4 linked regions of the Homo sapiens genome follow. The protein of the gene in region 1 interacts with the protein of each later gene in a pairwise test. Each region holds a gene or a part of one and is shown in the gene's direction. Other genes may lie near its edges. The genes, in order: NOTCH2NLC, FAM221A, PGAP6 and SLC5A5.

Evidence for each region.
Region 2: the proteins of NOTCH2NLC (region 1) and FAM221A interact in binary tests that used the Homo sapiens proteins (3 or more experiments, as listed by UniProt).
Region 3: the proteins of NOTCH2NLC (region 1) and PGAP6 interact in binary tests that used the Homo sapiens proteins (3 or more experiments, as listed by UniProt).
Region 4: the proteins of NOTCH2NLC (region 1) and SLC5A5 interact in binary tests that used the Homo sapiens proteins (3 or more experiments, as listed by UniProt).

The regions. Positions count from the first base shown.
Region 1 is NC_000001.11:149,393,215-149,401,199, forward strand, and holds part of NOTCH2NLC (notch homolog 2 N-terminal-like protein C), read left to right. Parts: intron 1-7,985. UniProt on the Homo sapiens protein: Human-specific protein that promotes neural progenitor proliferation and evolutionary expansion of the brain neocortex by regulating the Notch signaling pathway.
Region 2 is NC_000007.14:23,696,484-23,703,420, forward strand, and holds the end of FAM221A (protein FAM221A), read left to right. Parts: intron 1-1,708; coding exon 1,709-1,816; intron 1,817-4,302; coding exon 4,303-4,385; intron 4,386-5,612; coding exon 5,613-5,681; 3' UTR 5,682-6,167; downstream 6,168-6,937.
Region 3 is NC_000016.10:378,631-386,620, reverse strand, and holds the start of PGAP6 (post-GPI attachment to proteins factor 6 precursor), read left to right. Parts: upstream 1-4,642; 5' UTR 4,643-4,799; coding exon 4,800-4,920; intron 4,921-7,990. UniProt on the Homo sapiens protein: Involved in the lipid remodeling steps of GPI-anchor maturation. Lipid remodeling steps consist in the generation of 2 saturated fatty chains at the sn-2 position of GPI-anchor proteins (GPI-AP).
Region 4 is NC_000019.10:17,888,178-17,895,892, forward strand, and holds the end of SLC5A5 (sodium/iodide cotransporter), read left to right. Parts: intron 1-153; coding exon 154-278; intron 279-2,708; coding exon 2,709-2,824; intron 2,825-5,535; coding exon 5,536-5,700; 3' UTR 5,701-6,997; downstream 6,998-7,715. UniProt on the Homo sapiens protein: Sodium:iodide symporter that mediates the transport of iodide into the thyroid gland. Can also mediate the transport of chlorate, thiocynate, nitrate and selenocynate.

The DNA.
Region 1 (7,985 bases):
GCTAGCTTTTAGGTAGTCAAGTTGAGTGTTAGTCAAGTTGACTCAAAGGATAGGATTTAGATATTTTGATTTTTAGACAGGTGTTCTTTAGATGCTAAACTAATGCAGTAGAAGAGATTTAGAAGCCTGTTTCTTGGTACAAATCTTAAATCTTCTTAGAGTCTACAGTGAAGGCTTCTTGAATCCTCTTAATTTATTATTGTGTTTTGCTAAGGTACCAATTACAGCACACCCTTCTAAACTTTTGAGTGCTCCTGTGTTTGGCTTGTGGCCAATTGTTAATTTAAACATCACGGAGTTTCTAAGGCAAGGAGATGTTAGCAGTATGTCTGATTGTCTAAACAGCTATCCAGGACCATCCTCTTGCTCCTTGTTTTCTTTTGCTTTGCAATGGGAAGTGACTCCCTGATTTTGCTGCCTGCTAGATAATTTCTCAGCTGAATTCTTCTCTTAAACAAAATCGGAGTAATTTTCTTTCAGATGGTGATGAAATTTAACCTAAAACTATTTTTCCTTTCACTTTCTTATTATTCCTTTTTTTTTTGGTGTGGTGGAGAGGAGGAGGAGAGTGATTCCTAGTCTCTCTTATTTTTCTGAATGTTTAGATTTAAAAAATATTTACCCATAACTTCTTGGGATCTCTCTGCTCCATTCCCACCCTACTGCCTCTCCTGTAGGCTTCTATGACATAGAGAAGCAACTTTTGGTTCACCTGGATTGTAGTTGCTGACTTCAGGACCTTTAGAGAATGTTTAAATTCAGTGGGATATGCTTGGATGGTTCAGAGCAGCCTTACAATACATTTTAAAAATATCACACCCACAGAAATTCTATTTTGCCCACAAAATTTGCATTGATCTAGTTCCCACTCTGTGTTGCCATTCCTAGTGATCCTCCTCCCTACCTCTCCCATTATGGTAGAAAAAAACTCTGTGTCCTGGCTACATCAAAATCTGTTGGGGTGGATCTTGGACTCAGCACCCAGGGATTCTGATAAGGTAAGTTTGAGAATCCATATTTTTTCAAGGTTTACAGGTGATTCTGACAAGTAACTTGGTTGCAACCCACTGATTAAGTACATTTTTTTTTACCTTCAGGTGTGTGTATGAGGTCTTTCTAAATTTAAGAAATTTCCATAACAAATGTAACCTTAGTCATTCCAGTGTTTAACACTTCTGACTCAAGAATTTTAAAATTGCTGACGTAAGAGATATAGAATATAATGTCATTTCTTCTGTTTATCTGGGTGCAGTATGTCTGCATTGACCCTTTAGAAGGGCTTCATATATTTAGATGATATAATAAATTCTCCACCTCTCCTTTTCCCTTTTCTTCTGTTATCTCGTTTTCCTTAAATGTCATTCATACATGTTGTTTTTTGACCCTTTATCTATATACGTCTGCAATGATTTTAGAGTAAAAAACTGCAAGGCGTGATTTGAATAAGGATATAAGAAATTTTACATCATTTTCTTTATATTGTGTTCACAGTCCATAGTTACATGCTTCCTTTCTTGATGTCTCAGTTCGAATGCCTAAATTTGAACTATTAATTTTCCTTCCACCCTTTCCTGATTTTCCTGTTTTTGTTTCCCACCCTTTCTCTGCAAATGACTTGAAACCAAAAGGTCTTCTTTTCTTTCTTTGTCAGCCTACCATATGTGTAGTATTTTGGACAGATCACTGAACTAGGAGCCAGAAGACCAGAATTCTTCTCCAGGTCTGTTATTAATTGGTTTGGTGACCTTGTAGGAGAGCCACTGTTTTGGTCCTCCATTTTCTGATGTTCATTGTTCATGGTCACAGAGCCAATTAGAGTTGAGACTAGAATTCCTTTCTTCTGGTGTCCAGTGCCTCATTCACTGTCCACATTGCTTCCATCTCATGTACAAATGCGCTTATGTGCACAAAAACTCTTATAACATCCTCAAGTGCTTATTGTTAATGCGTACATGAGGAAGGAATCGTGTATTTTCATTTATGTGTTTATTCTAATGCCCATACCCTACCCCTGTACCTGGCATGATGCCTTGGTATCTAATAGGCACACAATAAATACTTGTTCAGTCGAACAATTATTTTTAGCCACTTTCTTATTTTGGACAACTGTGGTACTCCTAGACATTTTAAAAATAGTATTTGCAGGAGTCATGCTTACCTTACATTTGGGGAAAAACCAAATTTTTCCCTTCCCCAGATGTTTCATTTAAACTTGTAATTTTGAATTTCTTTGTGTGTGGGGTTTCTTTCTTTCTTTTTCTGATCACTTCTGCAATTTATAAAGGTCACTTTGACTTTGGAATCTCACTTCAAAGGCACTGCCACCCACCCCCTGCCTCTCACTCAAGTTTGCTTCCACTGCTTCCTGTATTACTGTATTACTAGGCCAGCAATTTCTGTTATTTTGTCCAGAATAGCCACACCTTATTGTAATTTCATCATTTTGGGGACTAGTCATTTTTGGAATACTATTTTTAAAATTAGAGTTAACTAAGTTTATATTTATTTTGATAATTTTTTTTGAGATTTTTTTCATTGAGTTGGATATTGCAAACTTGTACTGGATTGAGAGAATATGTACATTTAGTAAAGTATATTTGCTTTTTTTTTTTTGAACCAAGAGAGTCCCCTGAACACCCTGCTGACAAAAACTAAAGGTGAAATATGATGAATAAATATTTGAGAGAATCACATGGTGTTGAGTTGTCTCTGCCACATGATTTTGATCCTTGAGGGCCAGGTCTGTGCTACACACATTTCTTCTCTGTACTACAGAACTTGTCTGGCATGTGCCCGAAATTCAGAGTCAACTGAGCGGCAGGTCTTAGTCACAGCATCTATGACTCCTGCTTTCCCACCTTTAGAACATTCTATAGGAGAGGCTGATGGTGAGTTGGAGTGTGTTTCTATGTTCTTTTTTCCTTTGAAGAGATAGGATCAGTTGAAAGCTGACCCCACCCACAGACTTTTTTTGCTATCTCTTTTAATTAATTAAGGAGTGGCTGAAATTTTCCTCTTTGTTGACTTATGCATTGGCGGGAACTTTAAAATTCATCTAGTCTTTCTGTCCATCCCATGCTGGATCTGATGTTTACAACATTCTAGTCAAGAGGTACCATATTTTCTCTCTTCTTGAACATCTCTTGTGGTAGACAGCTCTCCACAGCAGTTTATTCCATCTTTGGCCAGCTCTAATTCTTAGAAAGATCTTCTTATATTCAGCTGTAATCCATCTCCTCATGACTTGTCCTCATTGACATCTACTCAGAAATTTGTCTCAGAGTCCTGAGACCTGTGCAGGTGATAGGGACCCAAAGAGATGCTTGTCTGTAGACTTTACTGGGCTGACACCCAGCTCTCCATAAAAGGAGTCAAACCCAGTGAGGAGCATGTCTGGGGTGATTGCTCAGGTAAAGCATCTTAGCCCTACTTGTTTCATACCTCCCTGCACAGGTGGGCACTGGTGGGAGAATCACATTTATCAAGCAGTGTTTCCCTAACCTCTCTTATGATAAGAATAGCTCAGGTGTTCTCATGGAGATTCTGATTCAGTGCATCTGGAATGTCATCTGGGAATTTGTGTGTTCAAGAAATAGCCAGGTGATTCTTACATTAGGAAAGTTTTAGAATCACTGCAGAGTGAATCTGGGAAATCAAAGTGTTTGTTTTTGTTTGTTTGTTTTTTGAGAGTATTAGAGACAGGTTGCTTTGGCTAGATCCTGTGGTCATTTTTCCCCCTTGGAAATGCCTCCTACTTGCTGGCCTCACTTAGTACAGAGAAGAAAGCTGCTATGGTATAAGGTTAGTAAAGTTGTTTGTTTTGTCTTAAAAGAAATTTGCGAAATCCAGCATTTTCGGACTTCTGTTTGTGTTGTATGACTTTGTTGTAAGCCTCCTTATTCCTCCATTAGAATGTTACCTGAGATGTTAGAATGCATAGGAGTTCCACAGCCTTTTTGGTGTCCACTAAAGAATTCTGTCCTCAGCCGTTGCAAATGGTGCTTCCTTTGAGGATTTCTGCTTCATTAGCTCATGAACACATATTTGGTGTCGGCAGTTTCCCTCAGATGTGTTAGTGTGGAGAGATATAAAGGTCACTCATTTCTGGTGGTCCTGCTTTTGGGGTTTCTGGGCTGCTGCAGCAAATGAAATAAGGAAAGGAAAATAAAGGAGGAATCTAGGGCTTCTTGAGCAGAACAAAACAATCTGCAAGAAGGGGCACAGGATTGCTCCTCTCACAAAGACACTTGATAATACTGTCCTTGATAGGAAGAAGGAAGTGGCTTCAGATCTGAAAGGATATGCTCATAGGCTTGAGACGGGACAAACTGCATCACTGGTAGTGGTAGGAGGTTTGCCGTAGATCTGTTTTTTCTCCTGTCTCTCTTTTTTGAGGAGAATATTATCTGTATGGCAGAACATACATTGTGGTCTTAAAAAGGAGAGTAAAGCCAAGAAAGGGGGATGATAAAGCCATAGCTTGGAATAAGAAAAGCAAAGGAATTATTGTATTAATTTGTGTATGTAAATACATAGGTTTCCATGTAATTCACTGGTAGGATCACTAGCCCTTGGCACTAACATTTGCTATCTTTGTAGCTCTGCTGTCTTAGTGGTGTATTGGGGGAGCATTGTGGTGTGTTGTCACACTTAATTTGTGTGCTTCCCTTGGCATCATGTGGTAGCAAGTACAGGGTATTCTACTCTTCTAGATGTGTGGGAATCATTGACCAAGTAGAAAATATGGTCCTGCTCCCAAGGAGCTGACATCATCATGGAGACAAGACAGATAAGCACACAATTAGGAATATGAAATACAGTTATTTTATCATTTATCTATGCTCTCTGAAAGCAGTTTCCTGCAGTCAGGGTGACTCGGATCTATAGGGTCTTGGGAGTAAACTTCAGGTCTTAATACCACCAGGGAAAGGCGACCTCCAGCTCACCCTTGCTGGGCTTGTCTGCTGTCGTGAGCTGTCTGCCATTTTCCTCTTTCTTTGTTGTAATTTAGAAGTATTAGAACTTGGCTTGGGGAAAAGACAAAAACCCCTTTGTCTGGTGAGGGTGTAAATATAAATTTGGCACATGTTGTTGTGTCTATTATGTCTGTTAGTGGGTTTGCGGCAAGAGAGAGTGCTGTGTTCTTAGTCCCGAATGCCAAGCCTGAACTAGGACAAGTTATGGTGGAAATATCTTCCTTGGAAGATGCAGTTCTCAGTGGCAGTGGCTGAAGGAACTTCTCGTCACAGCCAGGCAGTGACTGAAGTGTGGTGTGGACACACCCAGAGTTGCTGCCTCAGGTGGCATTGATTAATCATACTAATATCTCCCTCACCCTTTTGTACTTGTCTTGGCAAAACCCTGTTCTACTAGCTCCCCAATAGTTTGGCCTTTATTAGGTATGATTGAACAAGCTCTTGGGGGTTCACCTTAGTGTCCCTTGCCCCTCTCGCATTTCCAGCCAGCTACGTCGCTCCAGCCATGGTACCCCGGGTCCTCTGGCTAGGCAGTGAGGGGCTGGGTTTTTCTTTCCATTGGACTGAAGCACCTTTCCCTGGAGGCTTGCCTAGGGCAGTTTCTGGTCTCCGAGTCAGTTCCTTCTGCAGGATACTGGCAGCTGGCAGAACTCTGGGTTATTTGAATACATCAGCCAAACATCTTGCCAAGATGGACTCATTGTTGCATAACGACAGGTTGGATCTATGGGTGTTGCAGAACCTGTTTCTGGGTTAAGAGTAGCTCTCTCACCCTTATTATATATGTTTATTCATATGATGAATGTATGTGTGTATTTTGTGAAGTAAGGAAAACATGATGATAATATTGTGGTTGGAGTTAGATACCTTATCCTAAATATGTTGTCTTTTTAACAAATAGCATTCCTTTAAAATACAGTTGTGCTTGATGAATAAGGTGTTGTACAAGAAGCTGTGGTTACATTCTAAAATAAACTGCCTTGTTCTGAGGCAGGCATGTTTTAAAATTGTTGTTTGCTTCTTTTTCATCTCTTTTTATTTTCATCTTTTTTTTTGTGAGAAGATTCTGGAAGTTTTTAAGCCTCAAATATTTTCAATAATCTATTTTAACGGGTACCTAGCAGGGAGAGGTTGTTCTATTGGTATACCTAACCAACATTCAAATAAGAATAATTGAATACTGTTTACTCACTAATCTATTCTGTTGAGTTTCTAAGTATGAATAATCACAAAACTAGATAGTGCTGATATATTAACTTCTCTAAATGGTAAATGTGGTAAGTAGCAAAGACATTTTTGTTTAATTCTCTCCTTACACATGCTTTGGTTCAGACGCTGTCAAGACACATTGAAGTTTGAGGACATGTGTATTTCGATTATTTTATTATATTTTTATTTGCTGTGAATATGGGTTTATTTATTTGCTAGATCTTCTTTAGTTAGAAACATTAAGGGCATTTACTTTATTACAACATTTAAAGTGCATTCTAATCTTCATGAGGAATTTTAGGTAAAAGACCGTATCCTGAGATTCATGCAAGTCTTTGGCATTATGTTACTATTTAAAGTAAGTAATATGTAGTGGCTTCTCTGACATATTCTTTCTAAGAGAGTTAAGGAAAATAGTTGTAACTAAAAACAAACATTGAAACAGTTTAAGGTAGGTTTACGTAGCAACAGAATTATTCGTTATGTTTACAGATAATTAACTCATATTTAAACTTTGCTGATTTTCTCTGGCACCTTTACAAGATTTTTTTATTTTTGTAATATAAAAAGTAATTATGTTTGAAAAAGTAGTTAAGGATGTTTGAAGAATCTAGAAAAGCGTAAATAAAATGTCCACAATCATGCTGCCATTAATTTTTTGGTATACGTCTTTGGTTTTTTACCCTTAGATTTAGAAAAGCTGTTGATTTATTTATATATATATATATATATAATATATATTTTTTTTTTAGTTTATGAACAGATCTACATATATATATATGCACACACACATAATATACTATTGTCAACACTAGGTTTTATTTTTAAAAATCTTTACCATTTGATAAGTGGTAAATATTACTTAATCTTAATATGCCTCTCTCATTACAGTGATATTGAATGTTTTTTCATATCATCAGTGGCGTTTGTATTGCCTTTTTTTCTACTTCTTTTGGTAAATTGTGTCTTTTACTCATTTAATTATTTTCTTACTGGTTTGAAAAAGCTCTTTAAATATTAAGGGTGTTAGTCTTTTGTCTTAAATATGTCACAATATGTATGGAAATAATTAGCAGTATATAACATAACATCAAATTGCTACCAATGTTGATATAAAAATTGTTCATTTCATAGGTTAATTTTTTTTAATCCTTTGGTTTCTAATGATATTGGTTAATTCATTTGTTAACTGCTATTTTCTGTAGCTACTTGAAAGTTCTTATCTGACTGTATCGTAAATCAGCATGCTTTCAGCTGTATATGTCTAGGAAATTGACATTTACTTTAATACTTAATAAAAAAATATGTTGGAGAAAAGCAGTGTGTTCTGGAGTCAAATACATGATTTTGGGTGGGTGACGTAATCGGCTACTGTCCTCCTTTTCTAGATAGCCAAGATTTTTGAAGCATTTAACATCCCTGAAAGGCAGGACTAATGCTATGTCTACCATGCACTGCTAATTCTGACACTTTGACCTAATGGATAAATGCCAGTACAGTGGGTCTAGTCAGTTAGCTTGGTCAGAGAACAAGATGACTAAGATTCTCTCCCCCTTTCCTCACCAAATTGATTAGTTGTAGGACAGAACTGACTGAAGCAACCTGTTGTTTTGGCAACCCATGGACACCACCTGTTTCTTCCATTCCTCCGTCCAGCCTCTCACTGCCCTAGTGCAGTGCTGTGTGCACAGTGGGTAGGAGATCAATGTTGTTGCTAAAGAATGTAGCAATAAAGAAGAGTAGATTGCTTTTTTTCCAAGCTTTTGTGTTTTTAAGGCACCCCGCTGGTTTTGACATTCG
Region 2 (6,937 bases), on another chromosome or scaffold:
AGCTTTGGATGCAGAGGTTGCAATGAGCTGTGATGGCACCATTGCCCTCCAGCCTGGGTGACAGAGTAACACCCTGCCTCAAAGTAAATAAATAAAATGTTACACTTTTATAGGGCAGCTCTGTTACAATCTTATGTGGCCACCATTGTATATGCAGTCCATTGTTGACCAAAATGCCTTATGTAACACATGATTTCATAGGGAAAGAAAGCCTCTTCCTTTTGGTCAATGAAAGAAGGTGGAGTGAAGAAAGGTGAGAGTAAGGAGAGGAAATATAAGATGTTTTTGTTCTGATTTCAGGTATAGAGGAACCTAGGGACAGAGGGACTCCAGATTTTTAGCCATGTGGATACCTAGACCGAGGAAACCTCTTGCTGGAATTTGGTTCCTTTTTGATGTGGAAGGAGCCCATAATTCCCAGCTCTCTGGGGGTGTGGGAAGGCAGCTGACCTGTGAGTCAGTGGGCCAGTCATGCATCTATCATAGCAGGGGGCAGAGCTGGAGGTGGGTTCCCTAAGCTCGGGGACTCAATAGAGGAAGTGACAGGTATTGAGGGAGTCTGTACTTATAGTCGGAGCAAGCATGAGGCTACCAGGCCCTATCAAGCTGAGAGACCAACTTATTAAATACAAGTTGAGCATTTGAGATCAGTAGCACATGCAGCCGCCAGAGGGCAGCACAAGGACGTGCGTGGGCCAGAGCCCCTTCTCCCATGTTCCCACATGCCCCATGGAAGCCACTGGGGCCAGGAGCGGGGAGAGACTGAGCAATCGTCCCACACTGTTTATGTTATAAGATGGGGCTAACTTCTAACCCAATTAGGACCACCTGTGGTGTAGAGATAGCAGTGTAGGGGAAAGGTGGTGGTTTGTGAAGAAGATAGAGCAGCTACACATTTTCTCTGCAGCTTCCTTCCTTTTGGTCCAAAAGTCAATATATTTAGCAATTAGTCTTTGTAGTTTATGGTTTGGAGTTGTGGATGTTTCCTCATTTCATTGAAGAGGGTGCTTTCTTCTTTATTTTTCATACTTTGTTTTTAGATGGTTTCCTAGTAAGGAATAGAGTAAAAATACACTTATTCTACCCTTTTCAGCCAGAGGTTCCTTATTGTGAATGTCTTGCTTTTGATAGTGTTTTATAACTATTATATATTAGGGTTTTGAACTTCTATGCTAACATAGGTACATAATATTCTTTTTTTCTGTGAAAAAGTTCTCAGAAATGTGCAGAAGAATACTTTTACCCATTTGCTTTTACTTTATATGTCAGACAAAAATCTAAATAAAAAGAGTCTCACAGTGTTGCCCAGGCCGGATCCAGTGAAGTGATGTGATCATAGCTCACTGCAGCCTCAAATTCCTGGGCTCAAATGATCTTCCTGCTTTACCCTTCCAAGTAGGTAGGGCTACAGGCACACACCACCATGTCCAACTAATTTATGTATTTTTTTTTTTTTGGTAGAGATGGGGTCTCCCTATGTTACCAAGACTGGTCTTGAACTCCTGGCCTCAAGTAATCCTCTTGCTTTGGCTTTCCAAAGTGTTGGCATTACAGGCATGAGCCATTACACCCAGTCTAAAATTTTTTTTTTATAGAAAGAATTTCTAATAATTCTGCTGAGGTTCCAATTTATTTTACATTAGAAGTAATAACTTGTTTGTATCCCTGTAAATATTTAATTTTTATTCTCCATGTATTGTTTTCTCAGGTGTACCTTCAGTTGAATTTTTAGAATCTCCCATTACGGCAGTAGACAGCCCATTCCTAAAAGCATTTCAAGCATCATCTAGTTCTTCTCCAGAAACGTTAACAGATGGTAATGAAATGAAGTTTAGAACTGTTTTTGGATGTAGTAAATTGGAATATGGAGCTTTGATTTGTTTTCTAGGCATCTCTCTTTTTTTCATTATTACGATAATTTAACTTCAAGTTAAGCTATCATTTTACTTTCTTTTATGTAAGCCACACACTGAGAAAAAGCAAGCAACTTCATTTTGTATTGGGAAAAATAGCTAACTCCGAGAATGTCGAGGATTCTGATACTACTATAATTTGAAGTTTTAAACCTTGTTCTGGTACATGCTGTTGCTCTGGTGTTTGAATAAGAGGGCCTTCTGGCGGCCTAATTGCCTTTGGGTTTTCCCAAAGAGGCGTAATCCAGTGATAACCATAGGTTAGCAGGGTTTTATCATTTATAAATTAAGAGCAAGTAGAATTCATTTTTAAGCACCAGTATTCTGTATTTTCCTTACTGAAAACAGGAAGAATGAATTTGTATGACTTATTAGGTATTTAAAATTTAGTATTTTAGAATATTTTAAAATGAGAATTTTCTTTATCTGTATTTTCATACACCTAGACGTTCCCCACAAGGAATTTTAAGGCTGCTTGCCTTAAAACATACAACTTAGTACATAATGATAAAATATATATACAAGTAAGAAGCCAAGAAAAGGACACAGCTGTGGCAGCTTTCAAGGTTGATGTAATTGCTTTGTTTAAACTTCAGTTTTGACTGAGTTTAGTGGCAGCCAAGACACAGAGGAAAGTGCAGTCAATTAAATGCTTTCTTTATTAGACAGGAGGAAGCCCGAGTTCCTCAGTGCTAATGAATGTTACACCAATGCTGGAATTTTTTTTTTTTTTTTTTTTGAGACAAGTTCTCTCTCTGTTGTCCAAGCTGGTGTGCAGTGGTGTGATCATGGCTCACTGTTACCTTGAACTCCAGGGCTCAAGTGATCTTCCTGCCTCAGCCTTCCACATAGCTAGGAGTACAGGTGTGCCCCCACACCTGGGTAATTAAAAAAACTTTTTTTTTGCAGCAGCAGGGTCTTGCTATGTTGACTAGGCTGGTCTCAAACTCCTGGCCTCAAGCTAGCCTCCTGCCTCAGCTTCCCAAAGCACTAGGATTATAGCTATGTGTCACTGCTCCTGGCCTGGCATGCTGGATTTTAAGTCAGTATAGTGACCCTCAGTGATTAGTGACCAAGGTAAAAGCTTTTTTTCAGCAAATACAGCAGACAGTTGCTTGTTTCTGATAGTCACCTTTTCCTTTTTTTTTTTTTTTTTTTTTTTTTGAGACAGAGTCTTGATCTGTTACCCAGGCTGGAGTATAGTGGTGTGATCTTGGCTTACTGCAACCTCCACCTACCTGGCTCAAGTGATCTCCCACCTCAGCCACCTGAGTAGCTGGGACTATAGGGATGCACCACCATGTCCAGCTAAATTTTGAATTTTTTGTAGAGACAGGGTTTTGCCATGTTGCCCAGGCTGGTCTCGAACTCTTGAGTTCAAGCAATCCACCTGCCTCCACCTCCCAAAGTGCTGGGACTACAGGCGTGAATCAGTGCACCTGGCCTGATAGTCACCTTTGAAGAGTTGTGATATACCATTTTACTAGATAAATGGTAATATGCCATTATAATGCAACTCAATGTAGATGAGTCTGGAAGAGGCTGGGCTCAAATGGTCCCACATGATCCAGGGATAGACCCAGAGTTTCCAGAGGAATGGGTGGATAACACTTATTCAAATAAGAATCCCTTCTTACTCTTCTCAATAAAACTTTTGTCAAAGATAATCGACAGACTGTAGCTATACTCTGTGGTGATTGTCTGGAGTTACATGTTGCTGATTGAGGGTGAATTCATATGCTTTAGAAACTAGAAGCGCAAGTGTTCAGGTTGCTAGTCTGCTTTGGAAATGAAGGGACCCAGTGAAGACCTTCACTCGCAATGAAGGTGTACTTTTCTATGCAATTAGGCTCTTGGCTACCTGCCAAGAAAACCAGATGTTTTCCTACTGAAGCAATTTCAAAAGTTCCTTTCAGCATATAAATTAGTGCTTGATCCATTTGACAAAGTGATTACCGTAAAAAATGGATAAAATAGTTCAGTTTTGAAAGATTTTGAAGCAGGTACTATCATTACTTATGGTTGCCTATACCAAGCCTCAATAATTACTTTTGTGCATTATCTCAAAGTGTAACATGGATTTCTAGTTATAAAATGTAAAAAGTAGTTGGACAAAACTAAGTGTACTCTTATACGGAATAGCTATATGGTGCTATTTAATATGAACTGTGGAATATTTGGAGAATGTTTGCTAGTGAAAAACACTTTTGTCCTGTGATGCCATTCTCTCTAAAAGAGAATGAGGTAGTAGGACCAATTATTCATTTAGGCCATTTTTGGTTTGAAAAATAAAACATTATCACCGAGCAGGAGAAAACTTTTCTTTCTTTTATTTCAGGGGAATATGTAATGATATAAATACATTACTTAGATTTTTTTTCCTTGTTAGTAGGTACAAGTAGTCAAGTTTCTTCATTAAGGAGACCTGAAGAGGATGATATGGCTTTCTTTGAAAGACGATACCAGGAAAGGGTAGGTTTTTGAGGAAATTCAGTTGCACTAAGCATTTACTTGTAGCAAAAGCACTAGAATGATTATACATTGAATGTGGAACATCCTTGAAAATAATTTATAAAGTCTTTACTTACAGTTGGTGTTAGGCCTTGAGGCTTATTAGAATACACAGAAACAGGGCTAAAGAATAACATGATATTTAATACACTGGTTGATTTATGAAGGCCATAAAGATTGGATAAATACGCAGATAAAATTGTCAGTAATAAACATCAATATCAGCAGATTTGTAAATTATATGTATCTTGAATTCTTTTTTTATACATGTACCTTTATTTTTTATTTAAAAATATTTGCCAAATAAAGATTGAATATATTTTGAATTCTCTTTTTTTTTTTTTTTTTTTGAGACGGAGTCTTGGTCTGTCGCCCAGGCTGGAGTGCAGTGGCGCGATCTCGGCTCACTGCAAGCTCCGCCTCCCGGGTTCACGCCATTCTCCTGCTTCAGCCTCCCGAGTAGCTGGGACCACAGGCGCCCACCACCATGCCCAGCTAATTTTTTGTATTTTTAGTAGAGACGGGGTTTCACTGTGTTAGCCAGGATGGTCTGGATCTCCTGACCTCGTGATCCACCCGCCTCGGCCTCGCAAAGTGCTGGGATTACAGGCATGAGCCACCGCGCCTGGTGCCTATTTTGAATTCTTAATATGTATTATTTATTCTTCTTAGAGGCTTTTAGGTGTATCCAGACTCGTTAAAATTACCCAATACACATCTGGGCACAGTGGCTGCTTTTTTGCTTTAACTACAATGGAGGAGGAAAAGACTTTCAGAAAGGTAACTGTGGGAATATAGAAACCAGAATTATAGAAAACTATCCTTAAAGCAGTCCACGTTCCAGAGAGAATCCAGCTGGATTAGGTGCATTATGTAACTCTGTAGGGAATGTGCATAGGCTGGATGTAAGTTTAGTCATTTTAAGCACTTGTAATTTTAGTGGCAATTGAAATTGTTTTCTCTAAAGCAATATTCATATATTACTTTTATTAAAATGCTTCTGTAAAATTAAAATAAAACCATCTGAAAATGTGTAATTATGTCCCTTTAACAGATTTTGGCTTTAGTATTTAGCAGCTTAATAACTGTGGAATGGCTGTGACATGAATCTGAATGAGTTTTCTGCAAGTTTTTTTTCTTTAGAATGGTTTACAAGTTATTATATCAATAAATATGTTAAATTTACAGATGAAAATGGAAAAGGCTGCTAAGTGGAAAGGAAAAGCTCCATTGCCATCAGCTACAAAACCTTCATGAAGACTATTGGAGAAATTAAAACCATCATCCAAGTATCTTTTTCATGTTTATTTAAATGTAATAATACAGTTTATTTTTCCTGAAATTATTTACTTTTTTTTTTTACTGTATAAATGTCTTTTGGGATGTTTCCTTAATTTATTTAAATAACTAAAAATGCCTATTACTTTTGTCAAAACTCATAATTTACTACTTTGTATGTACCTTTCTTTCTCCTGACAAATGAGGTTATTTTATATGAGTCTGTCTGAGAGTACAGTAAATGTTTTTAGTACATAATAATTTAACTGTTTCAGGTATTTAAAAAATTAAAGATATTATCAAGGGTTTTGGACAAACATATGAGCCATTTTTTTGTCATTCAAAATAGTAAGTTAAAAACAAGAGAACAAAAGAAAAAAATAGTTAAAATCATTAATTTTTTTATTTTTCAAACTTTGTAATGTTATGTTTTCAAATAAAAACTATCTCAAAATTTTACAACCATTTTCTAGTGATATTACTGATTTTTTTTTTCAATCTTTCTCAGGCTGAAGATATCTACTGATTTTTACGTTGTGTTGTCAACCACCCATTGTCTATGACTGTACTGGACACATCTTGTGTGCCACTGCAAATCCTCTTGGCCCCGTTTCTTACTCCATTACTGCTGTGGAACACTTTCCAGCAGGCTTCTGATAGCGGAAGCCATTTGATGGCACCTTGTCTTGGGCGCATGTCATGGCTCTCTTGCTTCCTTCTGCAGGGATCTTCTGACACTGTGGCTTGGGATGCCCACTAGAACCCCACTGTATGATACATATGCAGCCCAAAGATGTTGGGGAGCTAGTGACTTTGGGGCCACTCTTGATTAATGGGAGGTGGAAGCCCAATACATAAGTGCTCTCCCGTCTGTTGGGAAGACAATTCTGAAATGCATTTCATAAACTTCCTCAGAAAGTCCTATCGTTGAGCTCCAGTCACCCATAGCAGTGGCCAACTCAATAATAATATATCCTTATCTTTCTTTTTTCCTTTTCCACTCCTCTACCCCTCCCTCTAGTTCCCTCAGATCACTTCCCAAATAAACTACTTGTATAACAACACTTACAGGTATAAGAACATTTGTCTTAGGCTTTGCTTTTGGGCAAGGGATAAACTCAGGCTAAGATGGTTAGTACCAGGAATGGCCTTTGACAGCAAAGACTCAGGATAGTATCCTGTGACTGGATCAGTTACTGCAGTGGATTTGGATGAAGTGCAGGTGGCAGGTGAAG
Region 3 (7,990 bases), on another chromosome or scaffold:
AGCCCCAAAACTCTGGGGAAACTATTTCTGTCTGTGAAACTCTGATGTCTGGGCACCTGTGGTGTGGTTCATGCTGACAGGTTAGGGCACTGGGTCAGAAAGACAGGGTTACGGTCTGCACTCCTCCTGCCTGACCACAGAGTGAGAGAGACCCATCTCCTGCCCTCAGGAAACTCGGGGCGGAGTGGGAAGACAGGGTCTCCCATGTCTACCAGGTGGCCATGAACAGACAGAGGGAAACTCCTTTCAACCTGCAGAGCCTGGGAGAGTGTCCACAGAGAGAGAGGGGTCCTCACACAGTCTTGCACACAGGAAGCATTTGCAGGAGGTGCACAGGGTGGTTATTTGGAGAAAATTGGATTACGGCTTTTTTTTTTTGCTTTTATTTAACTTTTGATATTTTTATCCAAGACAACTATAATAATGCTTATTGCTGCTGGGCGAAGAGCACACCGACTGTGGAAAGCTGCTCCCACACCCAGCAACCCTCCCCTCCGGCCAGGCTGCAGGCAGCTGGAGTCTACCCTCACCCAGGCTCACTAGAGGGGGACCTGGGGAGGGGGCTTGAGGGTCTTCCTGTTTGTTTGGAAATACGATGCGTCCCTGTTATCCAGCAACTGGATTTTTCACTTTACTGACATTCCTTCTGAAGACACATTTATAGACCCATCTAAAAGTTGCATAAATATTCAGAGTAGGCCGGGCGCGGTGGCTCACGCCTGTAATCCCAGCACTTTGAGAGGCTGAGATGGGCAGATCACGAGGTCAGGAAATCGAGACCATCCTGGCTAACATGGTGAAACCCCGTCTCTACTAAAAATACAAAAAATTAGCCGGGTGTGTTGGCAGGCGCCTGTAGTCCCAGCTACTCGGGAGGCTGAGGCAGGAGAATGGCGTGAACCTGGGAGGCGGAGCTTGCAGTGAGCCAGGATCGCGCCACTGCACTCCAGCCTGGGCGACAGAGCGAGATTCCATCTCAAAAAAAAAAAAAAAAAAAAAAAATCAGAGTAGGCCGGGCGCTGTGGCTCATGCCTGTAATCCCAGCATTTTGGGAGGCCGAGGCGGGCGGATCATGAGGTCAGGAGATCGAGACCATCCTGGCTAACAGGGTGAAATCCCATCTCTACTAAAAACAAAAAAAATTAGCCAGGAATGGTAGCGGGCGCCTGTAGTCCCAGCAACTCGGGAGGCTGAGGCAGGAGAATGGCGTGAACCCGGGAGGTGGAGCTTGCGTGAGCCGAGATCGCATCACTGCACTCCAGCCTGGGCGACAGTGAGGCTCCGTCTCAAAAAAAAAAAAAAAAAAAAAATCAGAGTATATTATAGCATGATTTATTTACCCATTGCCCTCATGGAGCGCCCAGGTTTTTCCAAATACAAGCAGTTCTGCTGCAAACATCCTTGTGTGTCTGTCTCTAGGCCTTAGTGTTCTCCATTACATTTTTTTTTTTTTTGAGATGGAGACTTGCTCTGGTTGCCCAGGCTGGAGTGCAGTGGCCTGATCCCTGCTCACTGCAAGCTCCACCTCCCGGGTTCAAGTGATTCTCCTGCCTCAGCCTCCTGAGTAGCTGGGATTACAGGCTCATGTCACCATGCCTGGCTAATTTTTATATTTTTAGTAGAGACAAAAATAATTCGCCATGTTGGCCAGGCTGATCTTAAACTCCTGACCTCAGGTGACCCGCCCACCTTAGCCTCCCAAAGTGCTGGGATTATAGGCATTAGCCACCGCGTACGGCCTCTCCGTTACTTTTTTTTTTTTTTTGAGATGGAGTCTCGCTCTGTCGCCCAGGCTGGAGTGCAGTGGCGCAATCTTGGCTCACTGCAACCTCCACCTCCTGGGTTCACGCCATTCTCCTGCCTCAGCCTCTGGAGTAGCTGGGACTACAGGCACCTGCCACCACGCCCGGCTAACTTTTTATATTTTTAGTAGAGAAGGGGTTTCACCATGTTAGCCCAGGATGGTCTCGATCTCCTGACCTCGTGATCCGCCGGCCTCAGCCTCCCAAAGTACTGGGATTACAGGCGTGAGACACCGCGCCCGGCCCTCTCCATTACATTTTAATGTTGGCACAATAATTTTCAGAAGGTTGAGGGGGTTCACATGCCTGCCAGCAAAGTGTGAGCATCTGTTGTGGCAAGGGCTGCGTGGCTGTTTTTTGACAAAGTGGCTTGTTTTGTTTCCCTGACCAGTAGCCTGACTGAGCTGTGTTTCCTGTTACAGAAGAGTCTCTCCATTGCCAACACTCTGTGACTTAGCAGACGTCTCTGGACTTCCGTCTGGGGATTCTTACCCACCTTCAAGTTCACCAGCCCTCAGCTGGAGCACTGGAAGTGGGGGCTCTGCCGCTTCTCTCCCTCTCCGGTGGGTGACTTGGGGCACAGGAACCTCAGACTAAGGTGACTCACTCAGGGGAGGGCAGTGGGAGGAGGGGGGCTTGGGCCCAGCCTGGAGCAGGGACTGGGTCTGGAGCAGTCCTGGGTGCTGGTGCTGACCTTGGTTGCTGGGTGCAGTCCGGCACAGCACACTCAAATCACGGCTCAGCAAAATCTGCAATCTGACCTCCGTGCCTTTAAAATGAGAACCCCTGGGAGCCCCCCTTTCCCCTCAGTCGGGGCTGAGGACGGCCCAGCTGGGATTCCCGGGAAACAAAGGGTCTCTTTAAGGCTCAGCCGGGGCTTCCTTCCTCCCCGGCCAACACCCTCCACCTCCGCTGCTCTGGCCTTCAGGGGTCTGGGCTCGTGGAGTCAGCTTCCCCTCCCCCGCTCCGTAAACCCTCACCACCCGCTGCGGCGTTCAAAAGGTACAAACAGGTATGGTCCCTGCGGCCATCCCCATCCCCACCCCGCCTCTCCTCCTCCAAGGTCAACCAGTGTAGCCGGTGCTGGATCATTCCAGACATTCGATGCCTTTGACACACACAAAGGAAACGTGTTTTTCTCCCTTTTCTACACAAATGGTAGAGCTTTGAACACACCGTTCTTCCTGTTCCTTTCTTGCAGCTACTGCTGCACCTGGTGGACCATTTCCAAGCAGCACAGCGCTTCCTGTCTTTCCTGTCTCGGCCACGCTCTGTCTCGTTTAGACCCCGTATGAATGATTTGAATGTCCCACCGGCCAGTGACACGCATGTAGGCGGTGCCACATTGACTCACTGGACGCATGCAGTGTGCCACTTCCGTGAACGTACCTGGAGGGAAAAACGCAGAGGTGGAATTCCCGAGGGAAGGTCATTGCTGCTGTTACTTCAGTGGACAAGTCGGGGGGGTTCCCACGAGGCTCCCACATCCTCTGCCTGCTGCAAGCAGTGTCTGTGGGCCACAGTCTCACCTGTTAGTACAGTTTTTATTTGCCAATGTGTTAGGTGAAAGGAAAAAGAAGTCACTTTAATGGGGTTTTCCTTTAATTTTTTTTTTTTTTAAACTTTTTACCCTCACATCCTGGGAAGGACACTTTAGTGTTTTGTTTTTTGTTTTTGTTTTTGTTTTTGTGTTTTTGTTTTTTGAGACGGAGTCTCGCTCTGTCGCCCAGGCTGGAGTGCGGTGGCGCGATCTCGGCTCACTGCAACCTCCGCTTCCCGGGTTCAGGCGATTCTCTGGCCTCAGCCTCCGGAGTAGCTGGAGTAGTTTTTAATTTGCATTTCTGCGCTGAGGGAGGAGGATCAGCGTATCCCTGGCAGCTGTCCTTCAGTATTTTCTAGGGGAGCGTTTCTGTGATTGATTTAGAGCTGTTTATTACTGCACTGTTACTAGTCTTATTAAGGTGAGCTCTGCGGTGTGAGCTGCAAGCTGTGTCCCCCACCTCCCAGTCGGGGGCTCGTCTTTTGGACTTCGCTTATGCAGTTTGGCTTTGCAGACGCCCCCACCCCCCTCCCACCCACGACGCGGCGGAACTTCTGGACTCTGTGCCACGCTTGGAAAAGCCGACTTGGCCCTAAGACGGAAAAAGCTTCCCCGAGTTTTCTAGGCTTTATCGCTTCCTTTTTTCGGCTCAAATCTTACATGGTGGGAATCCATCCAGGTGCAAAGCGCCGGGAGTTGATGCCACGCACCCGTGTGAACCGCCACCCCGATCGGGTACTACAGTCCCTAAACACAAGCAGCCTTCTCGTCTGTGCATAAAAGCGTGGATCTGACACGCACCTGCAGCGGCTCTGCGGCGTGAAGGCCGGCCCGGGGGTCCCCGTGCTGAGGCGCCTGACTCAGGCCCACGCGCGCCGGGCGGGGCAGGGCAGGGCGCGGGTTCCTCTCGGTCCCAGGCGGAGGTCGGCGCCTCTGCCCCCCGCGGGCTCCCCGAGCCTGCCACGGAGGTCCCGGCCGAGCGGAGCTGGGACTCAGCGAACCGGCGGGGAAGCCCCGCGGAGCCCACGCCTCGGGGAGAATTTCCTGCGTGTTCCGAGCGCGCCCGGCGCGACCTCTCCGTCCTGGGACCCCCGCGATCCCTCCATCCCGCGCCCTCCCTCCAGCGTCCCCCCGGACCGCGCGCGCCCCGGTCCGTCCCCCGCGCGCCCCACGTGACCCCTCCCCCCTACCGGCGCCCCACGTGACCCCTCCCCCCGGCGTCCGCGCCCCCCCCGGTCCCGCCCCCCGACCCCGCCCTCGCCTTCCCGGCTCGGCCTGCGGGGCGGGGCCTGCGGGCGGAAGTGCCCGGGGCGACGGCGGCGGGGACCGGCCGGGCCATGGGCGCCGGGGGCAGAGGCGGAGGCGGCAGAGGCGGAGGCGGCAGAGGCTGCCCGGGCGGCGGCGGGGGCCGGCGGCGCGGGACGCGGGCCGGGTAGCGCCGGGCCGAGCGCGGAGCCATGGGCCGGGCTGGCACCGGGACCGGGGGCGAGGCGGTGGCCGCGGTGGTGGCGGGGCCGCTGCTGCTGCTGCTGCTTGCCCGGCCCCCGCCTGCCTCCGCCGGCTACAGCGGGAAGAGCGGTGAGCGGGAGGCGCGGGCGCCATCGGGGGCGTGGGGCCGGGGCTGCGGGCGGGGCGGGATTGTGACACCCCGGGCGCACCTGTGCGCTCATCTGGCGCCGGCGCGGGGTTGGGGGTCCCCGCCGCGGGTTGGGGGTGCACAGTGGCCCTTTGGGGCGCTTCGTGTCCTAGGGGTCGAGGCGGACGGGACCCCGCGCTTCCTCCTCGGTCCCCCGATCGGGGTTGGGCCACATCGGCCCCTGGAGCGCCCCCTCCCCTCCCTCCTCCTCCCAGAGCGCCCAGGTCCGGCGCGCCCGGCGCGGGGAAGTGGAGGGGCCCAGGGGACTCTGCCCGGGACTCCAGCTGGGAGGAGTGGCTGGGCCGTGAGCTCACCGGCCGGGTCCGGCCTGAGAGAGGGGCAGAGCCGGGAGAAAGTTGTTAGACCCTGTAGCGGGGGCCCGTGGGCGTCATGGCTCCAGCCCTTCCGCAGTGACCCCCAGCCCTGGTACGGCCGCTTCCTGCCGCCGGCCCGGCTTCTGGGAGGAGGGACTCCCAGCTGGCGGAAGAGGGGCTGAGGAAAGGGCGCCCCTCTCCCCTCTTGTTGGGAAACTCGCCGGGCTCCCTTTGCATTTCTGTTCCCTGAGGGTCCCCGTCCCTGACTGAGGTCCAAGGAGGCGGCTGGACCAGGGAGAAGGCGTAGCCCTTCCACGGGGTAGGGACGTGGGTGTGGAGACCGTCAGGCCTTGGCCACCCTGAGATGGTGAGGACTTGCCCCGGCCTCTGTGGCCTGGGACTCTGGAGGGGCCGTGTCCTTTCTGGCCGGCTGGAAGTTCCCACACGTCCCCAGCCACGCGGGTGCCCAGGTGCCCGGCAGCTGATGCGGTGCTGTTCCCCGACTTCCCGGCCCCCAGCCCCTCCCCTCCCCTGCCCCTGAAATAATGCTCCTTTGAGCTCCTGTTTCTTTCGGGGGCTGTGCCTCCTGCTTTCTGAGCTTGGCACAGGTAGAGATGAAAGGCAGTTTTCCCCGAGGACCGTGCCCCGGATTAAATTGCTCCATGGCCAGGCGCGAAGCTCACGCCTGCAATCCCGCACTTTGGGAGGCTGAGGCGGGTGGATCACCTGAGGTCAGGAGTTCGAGACCAGCCTGACCAACATGGAGAAACCCCCTTCTCTACTAAGAATACAAAATTAGCCGGCAGTGGTGGCGCATGCCTGTAATCCCAGCCACTCGGGAGGCTGAGGCAGGAGAATCGCTTGAACCCGGGAGGCAGAGGTTGCGGTGAGCCGAAGTCGCTCCATTGCACTCCAGCCTGGACAACAGAGCGAGACTCCATCTCAAAAAAAAAAAAGAAAGACAGAAAGAAAAAAAAATAACCTGGGTGTGGTAATGTAAGCCTGCGGTTCCAGTTACATAGGAAGCTGAGGCTGCGGTGAGCCGTGTTCATGGCACTGCACTCTAGCCTGGGTGACAGAGTGAGACCCTCAGAAATACCAAAACCTTACTCCGTTGGAAACTGGCAAAGGAAATTCTCCTGTCCCAGAACTCAGGCCTGGTGAGGGGTTCCTGGGAGATGGAACCCCTGTGTGTGGACAGTGGAGAGGCCTGGTGTGCTGGCTCAGCCCCTCACTCCTCCCAGCCTGCCGAGGAGTAAGTGCTCTGTGGCGTTGTGGGTGGTCAGGGTCTCCCATGGGTGCCTGTCCCGGTTTGGAGGACGTGGGTCTGGGGTCTTCACTCAGGTTCCCAGGACAGGGCCAGGGACTTGCATTACCACCTTCCCCACCCAGCCCTGTGTCCGTGGAGGGGCTGTGGGGCAGGCAGGGGGCTGTGTAGCTGGCCCTCCTCACCCTGTGGTCACCTCGGCTCAGAGCACCCCTAACAGCCTGGTATGTGTGGGCAACTTGGGCAGGGAGCTTGGGCTGCAGAGCCCTGGGAGAGGCCTGGAGGGGCTGTGAGCCCTGGGAGTCGGGGACTGGGTGTTAGGACAACCTTGAACAGATCTCTTATCTCTGTGTACCTGCTGAAACTTCACAGCCACCAGCTGGGTTCTAGGTGCCCTCAGGCTGGCGCTCCAGGGCCAGAGGGGCTGAGGGCTTTGCCCCAGCAGCCCAGGGGCTGTGTGTGCTGCAGGTGGCCTCCCCTGCCTGCCCCCGCAGAGGCCGGCTTTCTCCGGGACACCGTGGTCCTGGGGGGCTGTCCTGCTTCAGCTCCCAGCACTTGAGCTTTCTCTGCCCACATTATCAGGCCACAGCCTGGTGGGTGGGACCTGGTGGCCAGCAGACACCTGGAAAGCCTGGAGTGCGTCGTGGGTGGAGCCTGGCCAGCCCCTGCCCAGTCGCCACGCCAGGTTCCCCTGGAGCTTGGCCTGGATTTGCCGACAGGCTGCTATTGGCAGGTGTATCGTTTCTTCTGGTGCCTCTATGGGAGGGTCACGAGGCTGGCAGGAGAGCCTGCTGCTCACCTGTCTCCCTCCTCAGGAGGGGCCTGGGCCTGAGCCAGCCACTCTCCAGTGAGACCTAGGCAGCGCTCCTGAGTGTGTGGGGAGGGGGAGCTGCAGCAGAGGGGAGGGTCCCGCCCCCTGCTGTGTCCACTGTGCTTTTCCTTCTGAAGCCTTTGTCGTTAATTAACCTCGGAGGGAGGGGCCCCCAAAGGGATGTGCCCTCCGCCCTGACCTACCCAGGAGAAGGCTGGGACCCAGGGAGGGAAGGATGCCCAAGGTCGCAAGGGCACGAGGCTGGAGCTGGCACGGGGGGCTGGGGGTGAGAGCCTGAGTCCTCGCCTGGGGCCATGAGCAGGATGTCTCCCACGGGCCCTTCTCCATCCCCGCACCAGGCGTGGGTGCGTTCCCTGAGGACAGTTAGGAGCCTTGCCCGCTTGGAACGCAGAGGGCAGCTGTCCCCTTGTTCTCATGACTGGCCAGGCTTCTGGCCTGGGTCCCTCCCACATGCAGTATCTCCCTCTGGGTAAGGGGAATTTGGGCTCCGGTCTCGCCGTGTCCAAAGTCATCATAGCCCAAGCAGGCAGCCAACCCATCCAGGGATGGAGATGTGGGAGGCTGAGAGGAGGTGGGAGGACCGTGCCTTGATATCCAGG
Region 4 (7,715 bases), on another chromosome or scaffold:
TTGGCTACTGCACAGATCTGGGCAGACAGTAATGGAGGTCTGTGCTAGGCCATGGCAGTTGGGGGAAGGAAGCAGGGGGTGAGGTTGGAACAGCTTTTGAGTGCAGGCAGGGGATAAAAGAGGAGGTTCAAGTCTGTCTCTCCCAACCTGCAGCTCAGGAATGGACGCCAGCCGACCCGCCTTAGCTGACAGCTTCTATGCCATCTCCTATCTCTATTACGGTGCCCTGGGCACGCTGACCACTGTGCTGTGCGGAGCCCTCATCAGCTGCCTGACAGGTAGGTAAACAGAGCATGTGGCCTCAGAGGTCATCCCATTCATCTCTCTGCCTCAAGGCTCCACCCAGCAGGGAGGGGAGAAAGGACGCTCCCATTGGCCAAACTGCCACTGTGTGCTGTACACATTTGTACCTTATTATTATTATTATTATTATTATTATTATCATCATCATCATCATCATCATCATCATTTTTGAGATAGAGTCTCACTCTGTCACCCAGGCTGGAGTGCAGTGGTGTGATCTCAGTTCATTGCAACCTCCACCTCCCAGATTCAAGCGATTCTCATGTCACAGCCTCCCGAGTAGCTGGGATTACAAGTGTGTGCCGCCATGCTTGGCTAATTTTGCATTTTTAGTAGAGACGGAGTTTCGCCATGTGTCTCGAACTCCTGGGCTCAAGTGATCCGCCCACCTCGGCCTCGCAAAGTTCTGGGATTATAGGTGTGAGCCACTGCACCTGGGCTGTACCTATTTTTTTAAAAGGAAAAAAAAAGTTTGTGAGGAAAAAAGAAGTGTGTGTGTATATATACACATACATACACACTTTTATGTGTATATATACATAAAAGAAATTATGAATATATATAAAAATTATGACTATATATATACATAAAAGAAAGTGTATATATATATAGTTTCTTTTAAAGGGACGGGGTCGACTGGGCGTAGTGGCTCATGCCTGTTATCCCAGCACTTTGGGAGGCCGAGGCGGGTGGATCACCTGAGGTCAGGAGTTCAAGACCAGCCCGGCCAACATGGTGAAACCCCGTCTCTACTAAAAATACAAAAAAATTAGCTGGGCATGGTGGCAGGCGCCTGTAATGCCAGCTACTTGGGAGGCTGAGGTAAGGGAATCGCTTGATCCTGGGAGATGGAGGTTGCAGTGAGCCAAGATTGCGTCACTGCACTCCAGCCTGGGCAAGAGAGTGAGACTCCATCTAAAAGAAAGAAAGAAAGAAGGAAGGAAGGAAGGAAGGAAGGAAGGAAAGAGAAAGAGAGAGAGAGAGAAGGAGAGAAAGAGAGAGAGAAAGAAAAGAGACAGGTCTCACTGTTACCCAGACTGGAGTGCAGTGGCACAATCATGGCTCACTGCAACCTTGAACTCCTGAGCTGAAAGCAATCCTCCCACCTCATCCTCCCGAGTAGCTGAGACTACAGGTGCGCGCCAACGTGCCCGGCTCACATTTACACCCTTTAAAGCTATGTTGCTTTCTTGACAACCCTGCACCTCTCAGAGCTTGCCCTATTTTGCAGAGGCAGAAACGGAGGCATTGCCTGCAACTCCTCTCCCCAACAAGATTAAGTCCTCAGTAGAGGATATGGGTTGGGGCGGGCGGCGCTATCCCTGGTGCTGAAATATCTTCTAAAGCTGCCGGTGACTCCGCACTTGTTAGGGAATTCTAAATTCCACGGAAAAGTAGAAGGAGACAAAGAGGGGAAAGTCAGTAGTGATAACAGTACCTGCTCACACTTCTTGAGTCTCAGACTTCACAGTCATCAGGCCTTTATCGAGTCCTCCTCTGTGCTGGACGCTATTTTAGGCACTGGGGATGCAGCAGTGAATGGAACCGTGTGCTGGACCCTCCCAGCCATCCATTAATGTCTTTGTTTTGTTTTGTTTTGTTTTTTTGAGATGGAGTTTCACTCTGGTCGCCCAGGCTGGAGTGCAATGGTGCGATGTTGGCTCACTGCAACCTCTGACTCCCGGGTTCAAGCAATTCTCTTACCTCAGCCTCCCGAGTAGCTGGGATTACAAGCGCCCACCCCCACGCCTGGCTAATTTTTGTATTTTTAGTAGAAATGGGGTTTCGCCATGTTGGCCAGACTAGTCTCGAACTCCTGACGTCAAGTGATCCCCTGCCTTGGTCTTCCAAAGTGCTGGGACTACAGGCGTGAGCCACCGTGCCCAACCTCCAATGATGTTTTTGTTTTGTTTTGTTTTGTTTTGTTTTAGAAACAGGGTCTCACTCTGTCACCAAGCTGGAGTGCAGTGGCACAATGACGGCTCACTGCAGCCTCGACCTCTTGGGCTCAAGCAATCCTCCTGCCTCAGCCTCCCAAGTAGCTGAGACTAGAGGCACACACCACCATGCCTGGCTAATTTTTTAATATTTTGTAGAGATGGGTTCTTGCTATGTTGCCTAGGCTGGTCTCCAACTACTGGGCAACTCTAAGCAATCCTATTGCCTTAGACTCCCAAAGTGCAATTATGAGCCACCATACCTGGCCTCACTGATGTTTTATTACAACTTCACTGTGTAGATGAGGAAACTGAGGCTCAGAGGCTTGCCAGGGTCCCTTAGTGGGACTGGAGCCTGTTAGACTTCATAGACCAGGGATCTCCTTTCTCCTTCCCAGGACCTGGTCTCCAACCCCCATGACCCCTTCACTGAATGCCTGGATTTCTCCATTTCTCCCCGCCTCTCAGGCCCCACCAAGCGCAGCACCCTGGCCCCGGGATTGTTGTGGTGGGACCTCGCACGGCAGACAGCATCAGTGGCCCCCAAGGAAGAAGTGGCCATCCTGGATGACAACTTGGTCAAGGTCAGTCTTAGGCTGGGTTCCCAGATCTAGAGGCAGCCAAGTGACTTTAGGACGTGACCACAGCTCAGGGGAGGGACATGGTATATCAGCACCTTTCTCCATCGCTCATTATCTCCAGTCAAAAGACTCTATTGGGAGCTGATTCATCCTCAACAGTTTTTATCTCCCTTCACAAGGACTGAACAGAGTTTAATACTATTCCTTTTTGTTTGTTTGTTTTTTGAGACAGAGTCTCGCTCTGTTGCCCAGGCTGGAGTGCAGTGGTGCAATCTCGGCTCACTGCAACCTCCACATCCCGAGTTCAAGCGATTCTCCTGCCTCAGCCTCCTGAGTAGTTGCTACTACAGGCGCATGCCACCGCACCCAGCTAATTTTTATGTTTTTAGTAGAGATGGGGTTTCACCATGTTGCCCAGGCTGGTCTCGAACTCCTGACCTCAAATGATCCACCCACCTTAGACCCCCAAAGTGCTGGGATGACAGGCATGAGCCACCGAGCCCAGCCTCATCTTCAAGTTTTTGTTATCTCCCTTCATAAGGACTGAACAAAGTTGAATACTATTCCTTTTTGTCGTTATCTGTTTTTACAGTGACTTCCAATCTTTGGCAGGTGAAACTGGTGTGCTGTTAGGGTATTGATGTAAAGTCTCTTCTTAAAATAAAATTACTTAATTCAAAAGTGAGTCAACTTGGGGAAAAAATCTTACATAAGAAACACAACAGATGGTAAACCGATTTTGGCTAAAACCGCGTGGTTGCTTTGTGAATTCCCAGAGTTTGGAAAATGCTGTCCCTGGGGGACCTGATCCCATGCCTACCCCTGTTTTGGAATCCCTGTTCCATTCTCTCATTTATTGAGCACCTGCTGTGTACCCAGTCCTGCTCTGGGCTATGGTCTAAGACCCCCACCCCACCCTCATCTAGCAGGGGCAGGTGAAAACTAAAAAGAGAAACATGTAGGGTCTGTCTCAGTATGTGATAAGCATTCAAAAGATAATACAACCAGATGCTGTCAGGCCGGGCACGGTAGCTCACGCCTGTAATCCCAGCACTTTGGGAGGTTGAGGTGGATCGCTTGAGGCCAGGAGTTCAAGACCAGCCTGTCGAACATGGCAAAACCCTGTCTCTACTAAAAATACAAAAATTAGCCGGGCATGGTGGCGTGTGCCTGTAATCCCAGCTACTCAGTGGAATGAGGCAGAAGAATTGAACAATTGAACCCGGGAGGTAGAGGTTGTAGTGAGCTGAGATCGCGCCACTGCATTCCAGCCTGGGTGACAGAGCAAGACTTCGTCAAAAAGATAGGAAAGCAGGAAGGGAGGGAGGGAGGGAAAAGAAGGAAGGAAAGGAAAGAGCCAGGCGTGATGGCTCACCCCTGTAATCCCAGCACTTTGGGAGACTTAGGCAGGTGCATCACCTGAGGTCAGGAGTTCGAGACCACCCTGGCCAACATGGTGAAACCCCATCTCTACTAAAAATACAAAAAATTAGCCGGGTGTGGTGGTGCATGCCTATAATTCCAGCTATTCGGAAGGCTGAGGCAGGAGAATCGATTGAACTCAGGAGGTGGAGGTTGCAGAGAGCAGAGATTGTGCCATTGCACTCCAGCCTGGGCAACAACAGCCAGACACTGTCAGAAAGAAAGAAAAGACAGAGAGAGAGAGAGAGAGAGAGAGAGAGAGAGAGAGAGAGAGAGAGCAAGCTAAAAAGAAAAACGTGTAGGGTCTCAGCATGATAAATATTCAAAGGATAATAAAACCGGATGCTGTGATGGGGAGCAACTTTAGCCAGGGAAGTCAGGGGTGGCCTCTTGGGAGAGGTGACATTGATTGACCCTGAGTTAGGAGAAGAGGAACCAGCCACAGACAGGAACAGCTTTGACTGAGAAGGGGATTGGGAGGGGAGGGGTTTGCCTGAAGGTGTTTAAAGCTCCCTCCAGCTGCCCTAGAGAAGTGTTTATCTTTTCTTTCTTTCCTCTTTTCTTTTCCTTTCTCTTCTTTTCTTTTTTTTCTTTCTCTCTCTTTTTTTGTTCTTTATTATTTTATTTTTCTTTTTTGTTGTCTTTGTTTTATTTGTGTGTTTTTTTTCTTTTTTGTCTTTTTTTTTTTTCCTTTTTTTGAGATAGGGACTCACTCTATTGCCCAGGCTGGAGTGTAGTGGCATGACCATGGCTCACTGCAGCCCCAACCTCCATGGTCCGAGAAATTCTCCCATCTTTCAACCTCCTGAGTAGCTGGGATTATAGGCATGCACCACCGAGTCTGGTTAATTTTTTTATTTTTGGTAGAGATGGGGTTTTGCCATATTGGCCAGGCTGGTCTTAAACTCCTGGGCTCAAGTGATCTGCCCACCTTGGCCTCCCAAAGTGCTAGGATTACAGGGGTGAGCCACCGTGCCCGGCCAGAAATATTTATTTTCTTGAAGGTGAACAGGCAGAGAAGCAGAGAAAGGAGGGAGGAACTATAGCAGGCATCTGAGAAAGCGTTGATGGCCTGGGCTGTAGGTGACATGTGAGTGGGGAAGAGAAGCGCATGGAAATTTTGGAGGCAGAGCGGGCAGGACTGGCCCGTGCACTGAGCAAGGGGATAGTATGCAATTCTGTGCACGCCCCGTCCCGCCAGGTCATCAGTAGCCCATCTGGGAGATGAGCTGACACGGAACAGGGTGGGGACAGGGTCTCTGATGGGGTCTCTTTTTCCCACTTTTCCCCAGGGTCCTGAAGAACTCCCCACTGGAAACAAGAAGCCCCCTGGCTTCCTGCCCACCAATGAGGATCGTCTGTTTTTCTTGGGGCAGAAGGAGCTGGAGGGGGCTGGCTCTTGGACCCCCTGTGTTGGACATGATGGTGGTCGAGACCAGCAGGAGACAAACCTCTGAGGACAGGGCCAGCCGCGGGACTGACACCCTGGGATGGAACCTCAGGATGGGCCAAACCCAGACAACGGGCCCATGGCCTTGGGCTCTGATTGGCTGGATTGCCTTGTATGCAAATGAGTTCAGGACTACAATACCCTACCCTATGGGGAGGCCCTGCCTCCGGGAGGTCATTTTTTAAATCCAGCCCCTTGCTTCAACCGTCCCCAGTATTAGACGCTGCAGCCCTGACGGCTCCCCCCAAATAAGGCTGGGTTTTTCTCTCTCTCTTTTTTTTTTTTTTTTTTTTTTGAGACAGGGTCATGCTCTGTCACCCAGGCTGGAGTGCAGTGGTGTGATCTCGGCTCACTGCAACCTCTGCCTCCCAGGCTCAAGTGATTCTCCTGCCTCAGCCTCTTGAGTAGCTGGGATTGTAGGTGCCCACCACCATGCCCAGCCAACTTTTTGTATTTTTAGTAGAGACAGGGTTTCACCATGTTGGTCAGGCTGGTCTCGAACTCCTGACCTCAAGTGATCCACCTGCCTCGGCCTCCCAAAGTGCTGGGTTACAGGCGTAAGCTACCATGCCCAGCCTACCGTTTTTCTCAATCTATAATAGAAAGCCACCACGCCCAGGTAATTTTTGTAATTTTGTATTTTTGTAGAGACGGGGTTTTGCCATGTTGGCCAGGCTGGTCTCAAACTCCTGATCTCAGGTGATCCTCCTGCCTTGGCCTCCCAAAGGGCTGGGATTACAGGGGTGAGCCACCGCGCCCCACCTCTTTCTTATTTTCTTCCTGGGATTGGGGAGGGGATGATTCAGACCCCACATGGCCTCCAACCTTGGCCCACACACCTGCCATGGCTCCCATCATCCTGAGCATGCTAGCGTCCCCTCCTCACCTGACAATGGAGGCTCTCGAATTGGGTTGTGTCCCCCCAAAATTTATGTCTACCCAGAACCTCAGAACATGAGCTTACTTGGAAATAGGGTCTTTGCAGGTGTAACTGGTTAAATTAAAAGAGGTATTACTGGAGGAGGATGGATGAATCCAGTGACTGGTTCCTCATATGAAGTAGAGAAGAGATGCAGAGAAACACATGGGGAAGATGCCACGTGAAGACAGAGGCAGTGGTTGGATCAATGCATCTACGAGTCGGAGAACCCAAGGATTGCCAGCAACAACCAGAAATCAGGAGGGGGGCATGAGATGCATTATTTCTTAGAGCCTTTAGAGGGAACATGGCCCTACTGACACCTTGATGTCAGACTTCTGGCTGCTAGAACTGTCAGAGAATAAATTTCTGTTGTTTGATGCCACCAGGCCTATAGTGGTTTGTGACAGCAGCCACAGGAGCTCATACACCTTTTTTTTTTTTTTTTTTTTTTTTTTTTTTTTTAAGGCAGAGTCTCGCTCTGTCGCCCAGACTGGAGTGCAGTGGTGCGATCTTGGCTCACTGAAACCTCTGCCTCCCAGATTCTCCTTCCTCAGCCTCTGGAGGAGCTGGGATTACAGGCATGTGCCACCATTCCCGGCTGACTTTTGTATTTTTAGTAGAGACGGGGTTTCACCATGTCGGTCAGGCTGATCTCGAACTCCTGACCTCAAGTGATCTGCCTGCCTCAGCTTCCCAAAGTGCTGGGATTATAGGCGTGAGCCACTGCGCCCGGCCTCATACACACCTTCTGATCCCGCTTCTCTCCACCCCTTGGAGACCTGGTCCTCTGTGCCCGCTGTTGGGATTGGACACCTTTAGATTTGGACTTAAAACTGGCCATTACAACTTTAAAATCGATGACTGGACGGGTGTGGCGTCTCATGCCTGTAATCCCAGCACTTCGGGAGGCTGAGGCGGGCAGATCACTCGAGGTCAAGAGTTCAAGACCAGACTGGCCAACATGGTGAAACCCCATCTCTACTAAAAATACAAAAATTAGCCGGGTGTGGTGGCGGGCGCCTGTAGTCCCAGGTACTCGGGAGGCTGAGGCAGGAGAATCGCTTGAACCTGGGAGGCAGAGGTTGCAGTGAGATCACGCC